Homo sapiens: one gene and its partners. The gene in region 1 interacts genetically with each later gene. Each region holds a gene or a part of one and is shown in the gene's direction. Other genes may lie near its edges.

Region 1 (3,538 bases):
CCTGGCCAACATGGCGAAACCCTGTCTCTACTAGAAATACAGAAAAATTAGCTGGGTGTGGTGGTGGGCACCTGTAATCCCAGCTACTCGGGAGGCTGAGGCAGGAGGATCACTTGAACTGGGGAGGTAGAGGTTACAGCGAGCCAAGATCGCGCCACTGCACTCCAGCCTGGGTGACAGAGGGAAACTCCATCTCAAAAAAACAACAACACAACAACAACAACAATAACAACAAAAAAACAAAGCAGGACTGGAGAGAGGTGGAATGAAGTGGCAAGGGGTTCCTGAGGGGTGATTTGGGACAGGACATCTAAAGCCAGGTGTACGCTCACGTCCTCAGTCCCCCAGGCTCCTGCACGGGCTCTGTTCTTTTGCAGAAAGGCCTTTTCCACCTCATATCCAGCTCCCTCCAGAAATTCAAGAGTCCCAGGAAGTCACTCTGACCTGCTTGCTGAATTTCTCCTGCTATGGGTATCCGATCCAATTGCAGTGGCTCCTAGAGGGGGTTCCAATGAGGCAGGCTGCTGTCACCTCGACCTCCTTGACCATCAAGTCTGTCTTCACCCGGAGCGAGCTCAAGTTCTCCCCACAGTGGAGTCACCATGGGAAGATTGTGACCTGCCAGCTTCAGGATGCAGATGGGAAGTTCCTCTCCAATGACACGGTGCAGCTGAACGTGAAGCGTGAGTCTCCCCGGCATGCCTGTGGGAAGGGCAAGGTCTGTGTCACCTTCTCCCCAGCCCCGCAGGGGGCATGCACCCAGGGCAGGGGGAAGCCTGCACAGACGGCGGCATCCTCCAGCCCTGGTCACGCCGCCTTGTCAGCCCTGGTGTTTCGGGAAAAAGATTTGCTCTAGCCTAACAGAATAAAATGGTCCATCCTCAAGCCATGACATGAATTGGGGATTATCTGGTTAGGTCTTTTTGTTCCCCTCTTGGTGGGGATTTTTTTCGCATCATTATCTTGTGCCTCATTCATTCAATAAATACGTATCATGAACCTACTAGGTACCAGGCCTTATTACGGCTGCCAATGGGGGGCATGGGGCGGTGGGCAGGGTGCAGCAGTGAGCAAAACTCTTGCCCCACGCGGAGCCAGCGCTGCAGTGAAAGAGACAGACAACAAATGGATTACCAAAGAAATACAGAGCATGAGCCAAGACATTAGAATCTGGAACAAAGCAATGTTAACAAAGAAATATACAACACTATTGTAGGTAGTGATATGTGTGTTAGGAAAAAAATAAGGCCGAGAGAGGGGAGTGATGGAGAGAGACCTCTCTAAGAAGGTGAGCACTTAGGCCGGGTGCGGTGGCTCACGCCTGTAATCCTAGCACTTTGGAAGGCCGAGGCGGGGGGATCACAAGGTCAGGAGATCGAGACCATCCTGGCTAACATGGTGAAACCCCATCTCTAGTAAAAATACAAAAAATTAGCCAGGCATGATGGCAGGCGCCTGTAGTCCCAGCTACTTGGGAGGCCAAGGCAGGAGAATGACATGAACCCAGGAGGCGGAGCTTGCAGTGAGCTGAGATCGCACCACTGCACTCCAACCTGGGTGACGAGTGAGACTCCATCTCAAAAAAAGAAAAAAAAAGAAGGTGAGCACTTAAGCTGACTGGAACGGAGGGAGTGGCTGAGGCCGGCACATATTTGGGAGAGGAGGATTTCAGGGAAAGAGAAGGGCAGGTTCAAAGCTTTGAGGCAGCAGCTGGGTGGGAGGACCTCAGAGGCTGAAGTTCACCGCCTCTGAGGGCCACATGGTAGGACAGGAGGCAGGAGATGGAGCAGGACTCTGGATCCCGAGGGCTGAGGTGAGGGTTTGGGATTCTATGCAAAGCACAGAACCCGCTCGTGGTTTCCAGCAGGATTGGCGAGGTCTGGTAGATGGTGTTAGGAACCCTGCGTGCTGCTGGTGGAGACCAAGAAGTAGAGGAAGTGGGAGGGGGAAGCTGAGAGCCGAGTTAGGAGGCTGTGACCATCACCTGGGTGAAGGGACTGGCAGGCCATGGCTTTGTCAGAATAAAAGCACTTTCCACACCCTCCACCCTCTGAGGATTCCCCGCCCCCTCCCCGACTGCCCCTCTGCTCCTCCAGACACCCCGAAGTTGGAGATCAAGGTCACTCCCAGTGATGCCATAGTGAGGGAGGGGGACTCTGTGACCATGACCTGCGAGGTCAGCAGCAGCAACCCGGAGTACACGACGGTATCCTGGCTCAAGGATGGGACCTCGCTGAAGAAGCAGAATACATTCACGCTAAACCTGCGCGAAGTGACCAAGGACCAGAGTGGGAAGTACTGCTGTCAGGTCTCCAATGACGTGGGCCCGGGAAGGTCGGAAGAAGTGTTCCTGCAAGTGCAGTGTGAGCCCCTCGGAGCTGGGGACAGGCCAGGCAGGGAGGTAGCAGGGGTGGACCCGGAGAGGGGAGCCACGGGGGCTCTCGGGGCCGTGTGCACAGGTTGGGGGTGCTCTCCTCACCCCTCCACTCGCCTCTGCCCCCTCTTCCAGATGCCCCGGAACCTTCCACGGTTCAGATCCTCCACTCACCGGCTGTGGAGGGAAGTCAAGTCGAGTTTCTTTGCATGTCACTGGCCAATCCTCTTCCAACAAATTACACGTGGTACCACAATGGGAAAGAAATGCAGGGAAGGACAGAGGAGAAAGTCCACATCCCAAAGATCCTCCCCTGGCACGCTGGGACTTATTCCTGTGTGGCAGAAAACATTCTTGGTACTGGACAGAGGGGCCCGGGAGCTGAGCTGGATGTCCAGTGTGAGTAGCCACGGAGCCTCTGGTTCTAGGGAGAGAAGATGGACACAGGGAACGGGGAAGGCAGATGGGGTGCAGGGCATTCCGGGGTCCTGGAGTCAAGAGCAAGGAGCAGCCAGGGTCTCCTGTTCACAACTGCTGTCTCAGCTCCTAGCATAGGGCCTGGCTCATGGAGGGTGCTTGGTAGATGCTTGTTTTTTTGTGTTTTAGTTTTTTTTGAGATGGAGTCTCCCTCTGTCTCCCAGGCTGGAGTGCAGTGGCACAATCTCGGCTCACTGCAAGCTCCACCTTCCCGGGTTCATGCCATTCTCCTGTCTCAGCCTCCTGAGTAGCTGGGATGACAGGCGCCCGCCACCACGCCCGGCTAATTATTTGTACTTTTAGTAGAGACGGGGTTTCACCGTGTTAGCCAGGATGGTCTCGATCTCCTGACCTCGTGATCCACCCGCCTCGGCCTCCCAAAGTGCTGGGATTAGAGGCGTGAGCCACCGCACCCGGCCTGTAGATGCTTGTTGAATGAATGAGGCCAGGTGCGGTGGCTCCCGCCTGCAATCCCAGCTCTTTAGGAGGCTGAGGCAGGAGGGTCTCTTGAACCCAGGAGTTTGAAACCAGCCTGGGCCACACAGCGAGATACCATCTCTACAAAAAAATACAAAAATTAGCTGAGCATGGTGGTGCGTGCCTGTGGTCCCAGCTACTGGGGAGGCTGAGGAGGGAGAATCACTTGAGCCCAGGAAGTGAAGGCTGCAGACTGAACTATGTTCCTGC
Region 2 (2,274 bases), about 13 Mb from region 1:
ACTGTCTTTCCTTTTGTTCCTAAGCCACAGATAAAAGGCCACAGATATCTCCACAGGTAACTTACTCTATCGATATGGTTTGGCTCTGTGTCCCCACCCAAATCTCATCTCGAATTGTAATCCCCACATGTCAAGAGAGGGACCTGGTGGGAGGTGATTGGATCTTGGGGGTGGCTTCCCTTATGCTGTTCTCGTGAGAGTGAGGGAGTTCTCACGAGATCTGATGGTTTTTAAGTGGCAGTTTCCCCTGCTCTCTCTCTCTCGATCTCTCTCTCTCATCTCTCCTGCCACCCTGTGAAGAAGGTGCCCTGCTTCCACCATGACTGTATTAGGTTGGTGCAAAAGTAATTGCGGTTTTGCAACTAAAAGTAATGGCAAAAACCACAACTACTTTTGCGCCAACCTGATAAGTTTCCTGAGGCCTCCCCAGCCACATGGAACTGTGAGTCAGTTAAACTTCTTTTGTTTATACGTTACCCAGTCTCAGGCAGTGTCTTTATCGCAGTGTGAGAATGGACTCATACAGTTCTAGAAGTCAGAAATCTGAAACGAGTGTTATGGAGCAAAACCCAAAGCGTTAGCAGGGCCAACTCCTGCGGAGGCTCCAGGGGAGAAGCTGTTCCTTGCCTTTTTCAGCTTCTAGGGGCCACCCGCATTCCTTGGCTCATGGCCCCTCCTTCAGCCTCTTGCTTCTATCATCTCATCTCCTCCTTGCTCTGACCTCCCGCCTTGCTCTTATAAGGAAAGATCCATGGGATTCCACTGGGCCCACCCAGATACCCAGGATCCTCTCCTCATCTCAGGATCCTTAGATTAATCTCATCTGCAGAGTCCCTTTTGCCATGGAAAGTCATGTACTGGCCAGGAGCCGTGGCTCACACCTGTAATCCCAGCACTTTGGGAGGCTAAGGCAGGCAGATCTCTTGAGCTCAGGAGTTCAGACCAGCCTGGGCAACATGGCAAGACACCATCTCTACTAAAAGTACAAAAAAATAGCAAGGCATGGTGGTGTATGCCTGTGGTCCCAGCTCCTTAGGAGGCTGAGGTAGGAGGATTGCTGAACCCTGGGGAGCAGAGGTTGCAGTGAGCCCAGATCACACCACTGCACTCCAGCTTCGATGACAGAGCGAGACCCTGTCTCAAAAAAAAAAAAAAAAAAAGTCACATACTCACAGGCTCTAGGGATTAGGATAGGGACATCATTAGGAGACATTATTCAACCTGCCACAAAGACACAGACACAACCAGATGACAGAAGCCAGGGGAAGAGTTGGAATATTATTCTGAATATGGTGGGAAGCTGCTGTTAAGTTTTGAGCAGGGAAGTAGCTTTATCTGAGTCACCTTTTCAAAGGCCCACCCTAGCTCCTGTGCGGTTGGTCCCTAGGTGAGATAATTAGCACCCTGAGGAGCAGTTTGGGTCAATGACCTCAGGGTCGCAAGGTAGAGGGAAGAGAAAGCCATTCTGGGCCTCTGGACCAGTCTATGTTCCCCAGAGAGTTTCCCCAAAAGCCCTGCCTGGCATGGGGCAGGGCGGTTATTTGCTGCTCATCTGTCTTCTAATGAGGGGTTGTATATTAGTTTGCTGGGGCTGCCATTAAAAAGTACCACAGAGGCCGGGCATGGTGGTTCACACCTGTAATCCCAGCACTTTGGGAGGCCGAGGTGGGCAGATCATGAGGTCAGGAGTTCGAGACCAACCTGGCCAACATGGTGAAGCCCCATTTCTACTAAAAATACAAAACTTAGATGGGCATGGTAGTGCACACTTGTAGTCCCAGTTACTTGGGAGGCTGAGGCAGGAGAATCGCTTGAACCCAGAAGGTGGAGGTTGCAGTGAGCCCAGATCATGCCACTGCACTCCAGCCTGCTGACAGAGGGAGATTCCGTCTCAAAGAAAAAAGTACCACAGATCAGGTGGCTTAAACAACCGACACTTATTGTCTCACAGTTCTGGAGGCTGGAAGTCCAAGATCAAGGTGTGAACAGGGGTGGTTTCTCCTGAGACCTCTCTCCTTGGCTTGCAGATGGTGCCTCCCTGTGTCTACACATGATTTTCCTCTGTGCCTGTCCACTCCCCACCTTCTCACCTGTAGAACTCAGGGCTTATTTATGCTTATTTGTTGACTCTCTCTCCTCATAATAAGGTGTGCAGCAGTGTGGGGTCAGGAACCACATCACTTTGCTCACCATGGTGTTCATTCTTTCATTCATTGATTCCACAAACATTTCCTGGATGCCTGCTAGATCCAGTCCGCCCAGGTCCTGCAGCCG
Region 3 (3,541 bases), on another chromosome or scaffold:
GCAGGAGCGGTCTGGGCCACCCCTGCCTGTCCCCCGGGGGGTGCAGCCCGGAAGGAGTCCAGATGGATATGGCCCCGCAGTGCAGAGTCAGCCCCAAACCAGGCTGGTCCCAGGCAGGGTGGGGGCAGGAGGAGCCCCGGAGTGGCCCTGTGTTGGGGGTCGGGGGGCAGGCAGGGGGTCCTGGGGCTCAGAAGCGGAGGAGGTGGGCTGGAGGCCCCAGTGACCAACAGGCCCAGGGGAGTCGGGAGGTGGGGTGGACGGACCTGCAGGGACAGTGTCAGCGCTGAATGGGATGGAGAGCACAGGGAGCTGGGGCCGGGGATGAGACCATGGGGAGCTGGGGCTGGGGCTGGGACTAGTCCATGGGGAGCTGGGGCTGAAGTTGGGGGTGAGTCCATGGGGAGCTGGGCTGGGCCTCCTGGGGTTGCACCTGCACTCCTCTCTGCTCTTCCCTCTGCGTATGAAGCTCAGATCCCATGATAAGGAGGCACCTGCAGACCAGGGGACCTGCACGGACAGCCCCAGAGGTGGACATTGAGGACTCGTAGGAGGACTTGGGTCTCATACGGCGGGTGGGGAGCAGGGCCCCTTCCTGGCTGAGGACACTTGGTGCTGTCCCCTCTCAAGGCTGTTTCCCCATCTGACAAAGGGGTCTCACGTGAGCCCCCAACCAAGTGAGTCGAGGAGGGCTGGCCCCACCCCCGTGGATTCGGAGTCCGTAGGAGGGGTGTCACCCGTCATGTCCCCACCCCGTGGGCACCTTCCCGTCTCTTGGAGCGTGGCCCATGGACATGAGTTCCTCACCCGTGTCCCTCTTGGGGAAACAGGTTTCAGGAGCGACGGGTCTTGTAGCCTGGGGCAGCCAGGCCACCTGGGTGCAGCAATGCCTGAAGGCCTCCTGGCACCGAGACAGGGGCAGGAGCAGATCCCACCAGCGGGAAGGTGGTGGGTTCCAGTGCTGGGATCCACCAGCTGACAGGTGGAGCTGCCAGTCTCCAGTGCTCAGCCCTCAGCGGGGCCTGCCTGGCAGCCCCACACACAGAGGGCATCGGGGTGGCGGGGGCACGTGTTACACGGGGGCCCTGGGTCTGAGTCATCCACTTCCTCCGAGTCTGGATGGGAGGACCCAGCGCCCCTCCTCCGCCCCCTCCTGATCTGGAAGGATAAATGGGGAGGGGAGAGCCCACTGGGTAGAAGGAACAGGGAGCGGCCAGGGTAAGTCCCCACTCTCAGAGACCCTGACATCAGCGTCACCTGGAGCAGAGTGGCCCAGCCTCAGACTCAGAGCACCAAGACCCAGGCCCGCAGGCCTGGACCCACCCCGGTCCCCCCGTCCCAGCTCCATTCTTCACCCCACAATCTGTAGCCCCCAGCCCTGCCCTGTGAGGCCCGGCCAGGCCCACGATGCTCCTCCTTGCTCCCCAGATGCTGAATCTGCTGCTGCTGGCGCTGCCCGTCCTGGCGAGCCGCGCCTACGCGGCCCCTGGTGAGTCCCAGCCGGGGTCCACCCTGCCCCTCACCACATTCCACAGGTCAGGGCCTGGGTGGGTTCTGGGGAGGTCGGGCTGGCCCCCACACAGGGAAGGGCTGGGCCCAGGCCTGGGGCTGCTTCCTGGTCCTGACCTGGCACCTGCCCCAGCCCCAGGCCAGGCCCTGCAGCGAGTGGGCATCGTCGGGGGTCAGGAGGCCCCCAGGAGCAAGTGGCCCTGGCAGGTGAGCCTGAGAGTCCACGGCCCATACTGGATGCACTTCTGCGGGGGCTCCCTCATCCACCCCCAGTGGGTGCTGACCGCAGCGCACTGCGTGGGACCGTGAGTCTCCCGGGGCCTGGAGGGGTGGGGAAGGGCTGGATGTGAGCCCTGGCTCCCGGGTGCTCCTGGGGGCTGCCCAGGGCCCTGAGTGGGATCCTCCGCTGCCCAGGGACGTCAAGGATCTGGCCGCCCTCAGGGTGCAACTGCGGGAGCAGCACCTCTACTACCAGGACCAGCTGCTGCCGGTCAGCAGGATCATCGTGCACCCACAGTTCTACACCGCCCAGATCGGAGCGGACATCGCCCTGCTGGAGCTGGAGGAGCCGGTGAACGTCTCCAGCCACGTCCACACGGTCACCCTGCCCCCTGCCTCAGAGACCTTCCCCCCGGGGATGCCGTGCTGGGTCACTGGCTGGGGCGATGTGGACAATGATGGTGGGTCTGGGGACAGTGGAGGTGGGGCCAGGGTCTTAGCCACAGCCCAGCCCCTGGGCTCCCTCTGGGCTCCAGGTGGGGGTTGCCCGGCCCCCTCCTGAGGCTGCACCCTCTTCCCCACCTGCAGAGCGCCTCCCACCGCCATTTCCTCTGAAGCAGGTGAAGGTCCCCATAATGGAAAACCACATTTGTGACGCAAAATACCACCTTGGCGCCTACACGGGAGACGACGTCCGCATCGTCCGTGACGACATGCTGTGTGCCGGGAACACCCGGAGGGACTCATGCCAGGTGGGCCCCGCCTGTCCCCCGCCCCCCGCCCCCCAACCCCCACTCCCAGGCCTGTTCGGCGAGCGCTGACCTCTGACCTTCCCAGGGCGACTCCGGAGGGCCCCTGGTGTGCAAGGTGAATGGCACCTGGCTGCAGGCGGGCGTGGTCAGCTGGGGCGAGGGCTGTGCCCAGCCCAACCGGCCTGGCATCTACACCCGTGTCACCTACTACTTGGACTGGATCCACCACTATGTCCCCAAAAAGCCGTGAGTCAGGCCTGGGTTGGCCACCTGGGTCACTGGAGGACCAACCCCTGCTGTCCAAAACACCACTGCTTCCTACCCAGGTGGCGACTGCCCCCCACACCTTCCCTGCCCCGTCCTGAGTGCCCCTTCCTGTCCTAAGCCCCCTGCTCTCTTCTGAGCCCCTTCCCCTGTCCTGAGGACCCTTCCCTATCCTGAGCCCCCTTCCCTGTCCTAAGCCTGACGCCTGCACCGGGCCCTCCAGCCCTCCCCTGCCCAGATAGCTGGTGGTGGGCGCTAATCCTCCTGAGTGCTGGACCTCATTAAAGTGCATGGAAATCACTGGTGTGCATCGCTGTGTTTCTGGTTGTGGATGTCACTGGGAGAGAAGGGGTCCAGGTGTGCTGAGGACACCTGCCACAGTGTGAGGTCCTAGCCCTCAAGGCACAGCCAGTCACCGTGGGACGGGGCCTCCTGGGCAGCCCTGGTCCCCGAGGCTGGCTTCTCCCCACACGATGCATCCAGCATTCGGGTCACACAGAGCCACTCGGGCAACTCAGTTGATTATAAAGGACAGCCAGGTCCCTGCAACCGGGTCAAGACAGAGAATGGTCGCCGGGAGCCCCAGGGCTGCCCATCATGAGCCCCTACCCCACGCTTCCCACGAGCTCTTCTCCCGGCCCCTCTGTCCACTGCTTGTGCTTTGCCTAGTTGTTTGCTTTGAGACGGGATCTCGCTGTGTCATCCAGGCTGAAGTGCAGTGGTGTGATCAGGGCTCACTGCAGCCTTAACTCCTGGGCTCAAGCGATCCTCCCATCTTGGCCTCCCATATAGCTGGGCCA
Region 4 (3,538 bases), on another chromosome or scaffold:
ATACATCCCAGGTTCATCATTCTCTCCTTCACTCCCATCTGGCCCGAGCCACCATCATCTCTCTCTTCACATCTCTCTCCCTTCACAGATCAGCCAGAGTGAACTCTTTAAAACATCAATGGTGTAATAACTCCCCTGCTAAAAATCCTTCATGTCTTCCCATCTCACCTAGAAGAAAATCCAATGTCTTAAACAGAGTCTACAAAGCCCTTTATTGTCCGCCCCTGCCTGCCTCTTCCTACCCACTCACCACCCCCCACCATACGGAGCTCACTCTGCACCAGCCACACTGCCCCTTCAGGCTCTGGAGCACACTATGCTATTTCCTCCCTTCCAGCTTTGGTGTTTTATTTCCTTTGCACAGAAGCTCCTTCACATGCTCTTTGCTTGGTTGGCTCCTTCCCAAACTTTGGGTCTCAGCTTAAATATGACCTGCTCAAGAGGCCTTCCCTGGACTTTATCTAAAGAAGACCCTCCCTGTTTATCTCTATGACAAACCCAGGTTTTTGTCTTTCATAATTTTCCCCACACTTTGTAACTGTACACGTATGACTTTACTTGCCCATTGCCCGTCTCCTTCAGGCTGGCAGCCCCATGAAGGCAGGGCCAGCATCTGTGTTGTTATCAGTACCCATCGGCACCTTGCACACGGTAGGTGCTAAATACATATTGGTTAACTGTTGAATAAATATGGTAACTCCAGAACTCTGATATAAATTTAGGAAATGATTCAATTTAGATTTTCGTGAATAACTATTTGCCCAGCACTGTGCTAAATGTTGTAGGAGTTACAAAAACAGCACAATACTCATTCATTTAACCCATAACAGGTGGGAGAGAGGTACTAGTGAGAAAAATTGAGGGAGGTGGCAGAGTTGTGACATTAGAGAGGAAGCCTGGCTGACTCTGTAGTCTGAGTAAACATTGTGACTATCATTTGGAAAACACAGGACATGCCTGAGCTGAGCTCAGATCCCCTCAAGGTGGATATTCCCAGGTTATCTACACACGTACTTACTATTGCCCTGATGTGAGCATGCAGCAAGCATAGTGCACATGTAGTAGGCATTCCATGAATTTGTCCTTGTAATTTTTGAAAGCAAGTGTGGAGATAGTTTCACTTTTTCCAGTTATCCAGGTTTGCTCCTAATCCTTCCTTCTGATAATTACAGAAAGATGTCAGTATTGCAGCCTGTTTTTAATCTTGTTTGAGAAAGCAGCTGACCAGACCTTTTTTCTCCTCCTTCTCCCACTCCCTGCAATAAAGCATCCTCAGAAGCTTCAACTCTGGAGGCAATGGGTCGAAAGGAAGAAGATGACTGCAGTTCCTGGAAGAAACAGACCACCAACATCCGGAAAACCTTCATTTTTATGGAAGTGCTGGGATCGTAAGTCCTGGGGCTGTGAGGTCGGGTGGGCTGGGCTGCCTGCAGTGGGAGGTTAGAAGAGTTGTTCTCTGCTGGCAGCAATTGATGAACTGGACTGAGGCTGCTGTGACTTCATTTCGATTTATTTAAGGGACTTAGGGAGAGTTTTGTGGCCTGGAGGATGGTGGGTGGAGTGGGTGGCAGGTACTTTGGGTAATACCAAAGATGATTTAATACATTGGATGTAGTCCAAGCTACACGGGAGGCTGAGGCAGGAGAATTGCTTGAACCCAGGAGGCGGAGGTTGCAGTGAACCGAGATTGCGCTACTGTATTCCAGCCTGGTGACAGAGCGAGACTGTCTCAAAACAAAACAAAACAAAATTGGAGCTCTCAGGGAATACCAGTCCCTTTCCCCCAGGGTTTGCCTCCTTCTGACCCACCTGCAATGACCCTCTCCTCCTTCCAGATCTGTGCCGGTTTGTGGGTTCTTGCCTCTGTCAGGAGAGGGGAGTTGGAGAGCACTTCTGGAGGTCCAGTGACACTAGAACTTTCCCAGTCTCCTCCCCCAGCATCTTCATTTCTCCAGCAGTGAACAACCTCTTCTTCTGCTCTAACTGGAACAGAAGGGACTTTTGAGGCCCAGGGAGCTCGTGGGTCACACACACCTGAATCAGCCCCCTGCACCACCATCCTCCCTCCTCCATATCCAAGTGTTTCAGCTGTGCTCTAGTCCATACCTCTGCCAGCCTGCAGGGTGTCTGAACCTGCACCTTGAAGATGATTACATGGCTGGCAGATCAGAGACAGTTTGTCTGGAACTGACTCCCCACTTAGTCCTGCCTCTCCCCTGGGAGGCTGCAGACTCTGACGCAGGCTGGCAGCAGCTCCAGGCCACTGGCCCCCAAACCCCTCAGAACCCCAGCTGGTCAGCTAATTAGTCTAGGCTAATTGGGCCTGGGCAGTGAAGAGCAGCCAGCGGGCTGTCCATCCGGGTAAGCTTTCTCTGTCGCCAATGTCACTTCACTTTGCACTGACTAGAAGGCAGTGACCTCGGGCAATGACGGCTGCCCACACTCGTGCCGTAGACAGAGAAGACACTTCTGGGCCCTCCTGGCACAGGCAGGTTGTCAGACTGTGCAAGTGCAGGAGGATCCCAGCGGGGTGCTGGTCATGAGAGCATTGGCCTTCCATCAAAGGCCTTTACCAAGATGGGAGTGACCAGAGAGGGGGTTTTGGCAGGAGAAAGAGACAAGCCTCATGAGTAAGTCAGAAATGATTTGCTAAGTGTCCCAAAAATCCAGAGGAGAGGAGAGAAGGGAGCCCAGGTTGACAAGAATTTACCATCTGCTAGACTTGTGCTGTAGGACTCAAAAGACAGACACACCTTCCCTCTTAGAGCTCAGTGAAGTCTACCACACAGCACCTAAACCTGGGAGAACATCGGAGTCATCTGGAGAGTTTATGCCTCCAACTTTTAACTGTGAAAATGTTGAAACATAAGGAAAAGGTGAAATAATGATAAAATGAACGTCAGTATACCCACCATCTAAATTCAACGTTGTTAACATTTCACTGTAGAGTATGTATTTTACATCACACACACACCACACACACACACACACACACACACACACACACACACACACGTACTGAGCACTGAACTATTTGTAAATAAGTTGCAAACATGATGACATGTCACCTCTGAATCTTCTGTTTACATCTCCTAAAATAAAGGCATTTTCACATATATCTACAATATCATTGTCACACTCAAGAAAGTGAACAACAATTCCTTTTAGCCTGGGTGATTTTTGAAAAATAGATCCCTGGTCTCAGACCCACTAAACTGGAATTTTGGGAGATAGGATGCAGCAGCCAGGAATCTATATTTTAAGTGCTTCTGGTGTTCTAATGTATCTAGCTCAGCAGTGATTTGAAGGGAGCAGGAGGACAAGACAGGAGGCATGTCACAGCTGTTGCAGAAGTTAGAGCTGAGCGAAAGAGAAGACATCTCAGTGGTGCTCAGGATGAAGACCAGTATTCCCAGGCTGCAGACCCCACAGAGTTACCACAGTGGGGCATGGTGGAGAGTGGACAAGTGTACAAATTATGAAAAAGGTGCTCTTTTATCTAGCCTGTTGTCTGCTCGGGCAGGAAATATAATAATTA
Region 5 (3,538 bases), about 13 Mb from region 1:
GAAGGGAAAGTCAAAGAAAACCATTTCTGTTGCCCAGGCTGGTCTGAGCTGGTCTCAACTCAAGCAATCCACGCAGAGGTCCTGCTAGTCCTTTTTTAAAAAATATATTCATAGTGGAAGGAAATATAATGTAAATAATTATAATTACATAATTATAATGTGTAATTTATTTTCTTCCATTATAAATATTAAAGATATAGAAAATTTATAATTTTTTATATCTTTAATATTTATAATGGAAGGAAAGGCTCAGTTCCAATTAGAAGTTTACAAGAATAAAGTCGTAATTTCTTTCCTGTCAAATTTCATAGACCACTTGAGTTCTGCTCTTGGACTCCTGGGTTTTGTGGACCCCAGATTAAGAACCCTTTCTTTTCTTTTTCTTTTTCTTTCTTTTTCTTTCTTTTTTTTTTTTTTTGAGACAGAGTGTTACTCTGTTGCCCAGGCTAGAGTGCATGATCTCACTGCAACCTCCACTTCCTGGGTTCAAGTGATTCTCCTGCCTCAGCCTCCCCACTAGCTGGGATTACAGGTGTGCACCACCATACCTGGCTAATTTTTGTATTTTTAGTAGAGATGAGGTTTCACCATGCTGGCCAGGCTGGTCTCGAACTCCTGACCTCAGGCGATCCACCCGCTTCGGCCTCCCAAAATGCTGGGATTATGGGCAGCAGCCACCACGCCCGGCCTAGGAACCCTTTCATTAGAGTTACTCTAAACTGTGGAAGCCCCAGTGACTGTTATTGATTTCATTAAATAACAGACTTTTTAAAAAAGTATTTAATTTTTAAAAATATATTGTGAAGGGGTAACGTATTCCAATTGTTCTGCCTGCAAAAGCATGCATATTAAAAAATCTCCCTCCAGCGTCTGTCCCTCCTGAGGCGACAGCATTACCAGTTTTTTGTCTTCCAACTGAGATGTTCTGTACATATACAAGATATGTGGATACATTTATAGTCTTTCTTTTGTTTTTGTTTTTTGAGATGGAGTTTCACTCTTGTCCAGGCTGGAGTGCAGTAGCACAATCTCGGGTCACTGCAGCCTCTACCTCCCGGGTTCAAGCGATTCTCCTGCCTCAGCCTCCAGAGTAGCTGGGAATACAGGCGCGTGCCACCGCACCTGGCTAATTTTTGTATTTTTAGTAGAGACAGGGTTTTGCCATGTTAGCCAGGCTGGTCTTGAACTCCTGACCTCAAGTGATCCACCCACCTCGGCCTCCCAAAGTGCTGGGATGACAGGCGTGAGCTACTGTGCCTGACCTATAGCCTTTCTCTTTTACACAGTTCAGTAGCACACACTCTGTGATATTCTGCCCTTTGTTTGAAATAACAGCATACCTTAGAAACTGCCCAAGAGCTAATTTATGTAGACCAGCGGGTACAATTTTATAAGCTTCCACAGTTGTTTCACGGAATTATGTCATCACCTTAAAACAATTTTTCACTAACCTTTAAACTTAACTCCAAAAAAACCCATTTCAGGTCCTCAGTCTATTCCTCATATTAGATGAAAAACAGTCTTCTTATGGTAAAGGAGGCCTCTTATCTTTTTCTCTGATTTGGAGCTTTTATTCTGCACCAGTAAATCTCACCAGCAAATTATTTTGGTTCATAAAAACAGGAGTTTCTTTTTGAAGGGGAAATTCATGTTTCTGTTTTTTTTTTTCTTTCTTTCTTAAAGAAAGGGTTTTATGTGTGTTTAGATCTCTGCACAACCAATCACCTCAACAAGTGTTTGGATTTCTGTTCCAGGAGCAGCTGACAGACGAAGAAAAGTGCTGGACAGGAAGGGAGAATTCTGACGCCAACATGCAGCGAAGTATCATGTGAGCACCCTCCCTTGCCCCTGAGTCTTTCCTTCTCCAAGTCCTCTGTTTCTTTCTCTAAATCTGTACTTAAAAAAACAAACAAACAAACAAAAACTCTTACGTTAGATTTTGAGTTGGAATTTCCAGGAGTCAAGTAGTATGGAAAATGAGCCGTGGGATATGGAAGACAGTGTATTGAACAACAGTTTTTAGTTGCAAGGAGCAGAAACCCTAACGCAGTGGTTCTCAGTCAGCAGCAATTTTGCTCCCCAGGGAACATCTGGCAGCGTCTGGAGATTTTTTTTTTTTGAGTTGGAGTCTTGCTCTGTCACCCAGGCTGGAGTACAGTGGCGCAATCTCGGCTCACTGCAACCTCCGCCTCATGAGTTCAAGTGATTCTCCTGCCTCAGCCTCCTGAGTAGCTGGGATTATAGGCACGTGCCACCACGCCTGGCTAATTTTTGTATTTTTAGTAGAGACGGGGTTTCACCACGTTGGTCAGGCTGGTCTCAAACTCCTGACCTCGTGATCCGCCCACCTCGGCCTCCCAGAGTGCTGGGATTTCAGGCGTGAGCCACGGCGCCCGGCCAGTGTCTGGAGATATTTTTGGTTGTTACAACCTAGGGACAGAGGGTTTGCCATTGGCATCTAGTGGCTAAAAGCCAGGCATGCTGCTAAACATCCTTCAATTCATAGGACAGCCCCCCCAACAACACAGAACCATCAGGCCCAACATGTCAATAGTGTCTAGGTTGAGAAACCTCGTGTTAATGCAGTCCGGCTTCAGGAAGACAAGAAAGGGCATGACTTGACTTATATCATTGAAACCTGCTGGAGTAAACAGCCTCAGGCTTGGTTCGATCCAGTTGCCAAAACTTCCTCCCTGGGAATCTGTCTCTCTCCATTGTTCAGCTCTACTGTCCTTGAGGTTGTCCTCACCCTCAGGCGGGCTCTCCCCTCTTAGCGGTCCCCTTGGAAAGAGGGTGTTAGAGCCCAGTTTCACTGGCCCAGCCTGGGCCACATACCTATCCCTGAACCAGCCACAGGGATGCAGCCTGGATCACGTGTCCACCCCTGGTCACAGGCAAAAGGGCCAGCCCACTCAAATCGTGTGTACTGAGAGAATGTGGGGTAAGAAGCATCCCAAGAGGAAAACGGAGGGGCTGTTACCAGGAGGAAAAAATGGATGGTAGAGAGACCCAGACAAGGGCATCCATCCCAGAAACCTGGGCGGTAGTGGCTTACACAAATGCTGGGTTCCGTTTTTCTCCCGTGATGAGGAATCTGGGGATTGTCTCTCCAGGGCTGATGGTGCCTTCGATTGCTTTCTGTCCACTGGCTTTTGCATGATTTTTCCTTTTCTTTTTGAAGATTAAATAAACCTCTTATTCTGGAATAATTTTAGAGGTACAGGAAAGTTGCAAAGACAGTACAGAGAGGTCCTGTATACCCTTGGCCAGTTTCCATTGTCAATATCATACATTACTATGATCCGTTTCTCACCACTGAGATACTAATGTCAGTACATTACTCTTAACTGAACTCCATACTTTATTATTCAGATTTCACCAGATTTTTTTTTTAATGTTCACGCCTTCCAACATTTTTTTTTTTTTTTTTTTTGAGACAGAGTCTTGCTCTGTCGCCCAGGCTGGAGTGCAGTGGCGCGATCTTGGCTCACTGTAAGCTCTGCCTCCCAGGTTCAGGCCATTCCCCTGCCTCAGCCTC

The links.
Region 2: changes in CD22 (region 1) and PLA2G4C together harm fitness less than expected from each alone (positive genetic interaction), as found in Homo sapiens cells (one large-scale study listed by BioGRID).
Region 3: changes in CD22 (region 1) and TPSAB1 together harm fitness more than expected from each alone (negative genetic interaction), as found in Homo sapiens cells (one large-scale study listed by BioGRID).
Region 4: changes in CD22 (region 1) and CAMK1G together harm fitness less than expected from each alone (positive genetic interaction), as found in Homo sapiens cells (one large-scale study listed by BioGRID).
Region 5: changes in CD22 (region 1) and LIG1 together harm fitness more than expected from each alone (negative genetic interaction), as found in Homo sapiens cells (one large-scale study listed by BioGRID).

What each region holds. Positions count from the first base shown.
Region 1 is NC_000019.10:35,335,659-35,339,196, forward strand, and holds part of CD22 (B-cell receptor CD22 isoform 1 precursor), read left to right. Parts: intron 1-377; coding exon 378-683; intron 684-2,096; coding exon 2,097-2,363; intron 2,364-2,509; coding exon 2,510-2,773; intron 2,774-3,538. UniProt on the Homo sapiens protein: Most highly expressed siglec (sialic acid-binding immunoglobulin-like lectin) on B-cells that plays a role in various aspects of B-cell biology including differentiation, antigen presentation, and trafficking to bone marrow.
Region 2 is NC_000019.10:48,049,560-48,051,833, reverse strand, and holds part of PLA2G4C (cytosolic phospholipase A2 gamma isoform 1 precursor), read left to right. Parts: intron 1-2,274. UniProt on the Homo sapiens protein: Calcium-independent phospholipase, lysophospholipase and O-acyltransferase involved in phospholipid remodeling with implications in endoplasmic reticulum membrane homeostasis and lipid droplet biogenesis.
Region 3 is NC_000016.10:1,239,514-1,243,054, forward strand, and holds TPSAB1 (tryptase alpha/beta-1 precursor), read left to right. Parts: upstream 1-1,191; 5' UTR 1,192-1,215; intron 1,216-1,425; coding exon 1,426-1,486; intron 1,487-1,639; coding exon 1,640-1,811; intron 1,812-1,920; coding exon 1,921-2,186; intron 2,187-2,313; coding exon 2,314-2,477; intron 2,478-2,562; coding exon 2,563-2,727; 3' UTR 2,728-3,041; downstream 3,042-3,541. UniProt on the Homo sapiens protein: Tryptase is the major neutral protease present in mast cells and is secreted upon the coupled activation-degranulation response of this cell type. May play a role in innate immunity.
Region 4 is NC_000001.11:209,593,688-209,597,225, forward strand, and holds part of CAMK1G (calcium/calmodulin-dependent protein kinase type 1G), read left to right. Parts: intron 1-1,267; 5' UTR 1,268-1,296; coding exon 1,297-1,388; intron 1,389-3,538. UniProt on the Homo sapiens protein: Calcium/calmodulin-dependent protein kinase belonging to a proposed calcium-triggered signaling cascade. In vitro phosphorylates transcription factor CREB1.
Region 5 is NC_000019.10:48,163,840-48,167,377, reverse strand, and holds part of LIG1 (DNA ligase 1), read left to right. Parts: intron 1-1,754; 5' UTR 1,755-1,811; coding exon 1,812-1,828; intron 1,829-3,538.